Linked DNA regions of Homo sapiens: region 2 is linked to region 1. The links come from fine-mapping of genetic effects on gene expression. Tissue or cell type: cerebellar hemisphere. Region 1 holds a variant in brackets; the other region holds the start of a gene. All regions are shown on one strand. Distances are from middle to middle.

Evidence for each region. PIP is the estimated chance that this variant, and not a neighbour inherited with it, causes the effect.
Region 2: it holds the start of PNMA3, and the variant in region 1 is fine-mapped to the expression of PNMA3 in cerebellar hemisphere (GTEx, PIP 0.98).

Annotation. Positions count from the first base shown.
Region 1 is chrX:153,030,606-153,033,445 of GRCh38, reverse strand. No RefSeq gene overlaps it. Among named protein-coding and RNA genes, the nearest start is that of PNMA3, 24 kb to the left of the region's middle. The variant C/T (reference allele first, on the strand shown) is at 1,686.
Region 2 is chrX:153,054,908-153,057,613 of GRCh38, reverse strand. PNMA3 (PNMA family member 3) reads right to left here and starts at 1,144. Exons shown (of 2, transcript NM_013364.6): 1 at 976-1,144; 2 at 1-664. The coding sequence starts at 558.

The sequences.
Region 1 (2,840 bases):
AGCCAGCAGGCTTGCTAACTGTTGACAGAAGGAGCACATCACAAACTGGAAGCGGTAGAGTGTAATGAAAGCAGCACGGGTCCCAGAATTAAGAAGTCTGGTTCTGCAATTTTGTAACCAGAGCAGTTCCCACCAATCTCTTGTCCTTGGTTTCTACCTTTAAACAAAGAGAGACTTCATGATCTCTGGGGCTAGGGAAAGTAAGGCTCCACTGCCCTGCAGGATGTCAGGATGACGCCACCCCCATGGCGCTCCCTCATCAAACTCCTAGGGAACAAAGTCCCTCCTCACTGAGCCCCACAGACGAGCCCCGGTCAGCCCAAGGGCCCAGCATGGTTGGAGGGTCCAGCTGCCCTCCCTGTCTGCACGTCCACACCCCCTTACCCTGGACAGCCCTGACGACCGTTGTCTGGTGTCCCAGAGCCATGGCCGCCAGGGCTCCCTGCGAAACAAGCTCAGGCCACAGGAGCCCCGTTCGGCCCCCGCGGGACCGCGCTCCCTCCCGCCGGCGACGGTCCACGCGCGGTCACCCCAAGGCCACTCTGGCCACGGCTGCAGACCTTGAGCGTGGGAAGGGGCAGCCAGCTCCTCGGGCCCATTCGTGATCCTCGGGCGTCCTCTGGCGGCCAGAGCGGGCGTGACCTCAGGAGAATCCCCGCCGAGGCCGAACTCGCCCCGATGGCCGTTTCGCTTTGTGGACGGTCGCATTTTCCCAGCGGGCACTGCGACCGACTGTGACTGTGGTTCCGGGTATGGTGGTTGCACGCCTGTGGTCCCAGCTAGTCGGGAGGCTGAGGCGGGAGAATCGCTTGAGCCCAGGAGGTCGGGGTTGCAGTGAGCTATGACAGCGCCACTACACTCCACCCTGGGCAACAGAGCGAGACCATTTCTCAAAAAGAATAAAATGACAACCGGAAATATACGACCGTGCTGTCGCGGCTGCAGGAAATGGCGGCGTGCCCAGGCGCACTCATGACGGCTGCGTGCTCGTCAAGGTGCACAGGCGCGCACGCGTAGCGTACACTGGTGAAAGTTGCGCATTTGGACAGGCGACACGTCCTGCGCCCGCTACCCAGACTCTGGGGAAGGCAAGGGGTGCCGCTCTGTTCTACTCCTTTTCCTTATCCATCTCTTCTGTCTTTCCAAAGAGATGGTGAAAGCTCCACACACAGGATAAACATGAGGAACTGAGGAACAGTTAAAAAGATGTCTATGCTAGAGCTTCAACCCAGGCCTCCGCCCCAGCCTGCTGTCCCCTGCCTGCCCTTCCACGTCTTATGCACTTCGTTCTGGGAGCCTCCATGCATGCCCTGGGGAGCAAGCCACACATTGCCCTCGCACGGCAGTGTTCCGTCAACTGGCACCATCCAGCATGTTCAGCTTGGTTTCTTTCCTCATCCTCATAAGCCACTGACTCTGGGTTGGAACCACCATCGCAGTTAGGTCATTCTCTACAATCGCTGGCCTACTATGCCCTGACCGTATCCCAGTGAGCACAATAGGGTCAGAATTCCAGGCCACTGTTGTCCCCCAACTTCCATTTTATCCCAAAGAGACCTTTCCCACTAGTTTCCCACAGCAGAGGCGAGACCGGCTGGAAAATGGAATGAAATTTATTGAAGAGAAACGTGTACCGAAATCACTGAAAAGAAGGGAACCACAACACAGAGAGAAACTGCAAACAG[C/T]CACTACAGGACACAGGTCCTAGGATCCCTCCTCCTGGGGTTCCTGGCAAGGCGCCTCGTCTACCCCCGTCCTGCTGCCGACCCCACTGCTACCTCCCTCCTTCCCGAGGGCCCCAGGGCCCGCCTCTTGCCAGGACGTGGACTCTGGCAGTGTCCACCGGCTTCAGGGAGCCCCCTCCCAAGCCCATCTGCTGGGGCAGGGCCCTGCCCTATAGTCATCACAGACAGTCACAGGACACCAGTAAACACAGCAGGGAACAGCCCACCAGGTCGAGGAAACAGTCACAAGTAACAACAGGGGTGGAATGCCAAAGCATAAAGCTCTCCTGGGAGCCTCAGGCAGGGCAGCCCCACTCCGTCCCGGGTCCGGCTCTTCCTCCCACAGTCATGGTTACCATCGTGGTCACAGGGTGAGCATTGGCCGCGCCCTGGTTCCTCCTTCCCGCCATCTCCTGGGTCTGTGCTGGGGGCCTCCGGGGAGGAGCAGCTCAGAGAAGAACACACACAGCTCCACGAGAACAAGCAGCCACTGGCCTAGATCTACACCAGGAAAGCAGAGGTGGTGTTTAAGATGCAGGACAGACAGCAGTGAGCAGAACCTGGGCTCACAGGAAGCTCACAGCACATGCCCCGGGCCTAGTGGCGGCCGCCCGGGTGGGTGCACAACACACAACTTTGCACAGGAACGACAGCTAGCAGTGGGTGGGCGTCTGCTGGGCGCGTGGGTCACTACGGGGCCTAAACAGGTGAGGGTGGGCTTCCCAGAACAGGGGGCAGCCTGCCCCGGGGACGGCAAATGGGGCAACCCTCTTGGGAGACCCAGGCAGCTGGCACCCTTGAGAGGACCTCTTTCCCCTGTCTCTCCCAACCCAGGACAAGGGGTGGGGGACAGACATCTTCAGGTGCCCCCACCCAGGTCGCAGCTGGCCACTCAGGGCTCCCTCCTGGCCAGCCCCCCAGAGACGGCAGGGTTTGGGGCTGGGGCTGGGTGCAGCACTGGGTGCAAAGCAGGGGTGCCTCCCCCAACCCCATTTGGTATCAACGTGGTCATCTGGGTCACCGGGAAGGGCTGATGGTGGTGGCCAGGGCCCTTTGGAGGGAGGTGGGGGGCCCCGATCCTGATGTGGGATGAGGGACCAGCCCTGGCCTGGCCTC
Region 2 (2,706 bases), 24 kb before region 1:
GTGCTCAAGCCAGGCATCAAAGGCCAGTGCACCTGGGATGGATATGGTGTTCCCAGAAAACACTCTTAGTTCTCGGTACAACATTTGTTCTAGCAGAGGCTGCACTGCTGCCCCCAGAGTCTGGGCCCAGGTCCAGAACTCTGGTGATATAGTCACTCTTGGAGCCGAACAATTGGTGTCCGACCCGAGGACTCGGTTCATATCTGACACGGTCCGCCTCTCCTCCTCTAAGAAGCGGTTCAGTCTGTTGAGAAATTCCCCATCTGAGTTACGGGGTTTTACAATCACTTCCCAGGGCCCCCCCTTTCCTGGTATTTCCCTTGGGAGCAAAGCATAGTCGATATCTTGTGCCAGCTCCAGTAGAATCGCCTGGGCGTTCTCCTCCCTCCTAAACATCCTGCCAATCACCCTGTATCTGCCCAGGTGCCTGCAAGCCTCCTGGAGTGTCTCCTCAAACTCATCCTCGCCACAGTCCTCGGGGATCCCCAGGATGAGCATGCACCTCCGGGTGTTCAGGTGTTCCCCCCGACACCAGTCCTGTAACAAGGTCAACGGCATGTCCTCGAATCTCTGCGGATACTAATTTGGGGGGAGTGATCAGGGCGTGAGGCACATATCTGGATCAACTCCTAGGGTGATCGCAGAAGGCCCAGGTCTCCACAGCCTGTGAATGCGAGCAGGGCGAGAGCGAGGTTAATGCCCACCTCTCCGCACGCCCACATCCACGCCCACCCCCACCCCCACCCCCAGCCGCCCTCCTCCCCGGGCGGCGCCTCTGCAGCCAGGCCCCGCCCCTGCCCAGCCCCCCACCCCCACCCCCCGTGGGGTCTCTGCGGGCCTCAGCCCCCTCCCCGCGCTGCCCCAGGACCCTGGACCCCTGCCCTGCAGGCTGCTTCAGTTCTGATAGGGCGGACAGGCGAGGGGCGGCGGAGTCTCCCGGGGCCCAGCGTCTCCCTCCCCAGGTGGGTCTGTTACCTTCTCCCAGGGCAAGGTCCCTTCTGGTCGGGGTCCCCAGAGGGCTCTCCGGGGGCTATGCGCGGCGGCGGCGGCGGCGGCGGACGGGGGTCGGGCACCCCTGGCTCCCAGCGCGGACGTTCGCTCAGACTGTGGCTCTCCCTCGCTCGCGCAGCACGTGGGCCAGTGCGCCGGCGCCTGCTCGCCGCGGCTCTCTGCAGTGCGGACACGGGGCGGGGGCGCGGCGGCGGTGCAGCGCGGACCCCTCCGCGTCGTCCGGGAGACCGCAGGGCCATTGGCGCGGACGGGTCACGAGGTCGGGCTCTCGCCGCCGCCCCTGGGGGCCCCAGGTCCCCGGGTGACGTCACCTGCTCCTCTCCCCTAGCCCCCCCGCCACGGGGGCCCCCGGGCCCCCGGGCACACAAGCGCCCGCCCACCCCCATCCCCACTGCGGTGGCCAAAGGTCTGTGGCGGCCAGTCCCCGTGCCTTTGGCTCTCACCACAGCGGTTCCTGGTCCCGGCTCCTGCCCCTCCCGCACGTGCCACGGAGGTGCCAGCGGGGCGAGGGGTCTGCACCCCGGCGTGCCCACCAGAGGGCCAGGGAGTGGTCTGAGGTGCGCCAGGCAGCTCTGCATTATGGCCAGGGTCAGGGAGCCGGGTTCTGGGGCCTGTTCACCTGCTCTTGTCCTCCCCCTCCCCGTCCAGGACTGGTCCTCTGGCTGGCGAGGCCAGGGGCACCTGGTGCGGGTGCCATTCCGTGCAGGAGATGCCCCAGGCACTCATGCAGGTCACGCACACCACCCCAAGGAGGGTCAGCCATCTCCCCGCTGTCCATCCCGCTGCTGGGACCTGAGGCCCTCCGGCCAAAGCGCTTCGCTGCCCAGGTGCCAGTGGACAGGTTTACCGGGACCTTTCCGGTTTTGTGCGCTGCAAATCTAGTGACTTGGGAAACCACTTCCAGGACTTGGAGCCCAATCCCTTGGGCCTGCCCTTCCTTGGCAGCCGTGCGCCGTGGGTTCTATTGTATCCGTTTGATCCCAGGGCAGCAGCCAAATGAAGAAGGGAGTGACTGTCCCTCAGGCAGTGGGCCCAGGTGTTCTGTGGGTCCTGCCTGCTCTGCCAGCCGCATGCTCAACTCCTATTCACACAGCTTCAGCTCCTCTCCAAACACAACGAAAAGGGGCTTGTGGTTGATTTTCAGGCCAGGTTCACCCATCCAGCCAAGTCTGGGAGGCCACCTTGCAGTGAGTGGGGCACAAAACTGTCCACTGACTTCCTGCCCCACCCTGAGTTCTGCTCGTCAGCCTGGCACTTGTCAGGGACCAAGAAGAAATGGCCCCAAGGGCTTTTTCCTGGTCAGACAGAATTCCTGAAACATCTTTACAGGAGTTATTTCATTTGCTCCTCACCAGAACTCTGAAGCAGGTATTAACATTATCCTGATTTGACTCATGAGGCTCAGAGAGATTAAGAGACATTTTCAAGGTCACACACCGTATTGAAGGTAGAATTGAGACTGGATTCTAAATTAGTGCCCATCAGTCTTTGGGTAGAATTGGGACTATTTCTCCCCTGGTTGCTTCATGCCTATTAGAATTTATTTCTCTCATTTTTGTCCATTCACAGTCCCTTGCTTTGTCACTCCAAGGGCTCAACCAGCTTCAAACTGAACCTTCATCTGCCCAACTTGCAGGGGTGGAAACAGAGGTTCAGAGAAGGGACACTACTGGCCCAAGGTCACACAGTGAGTAA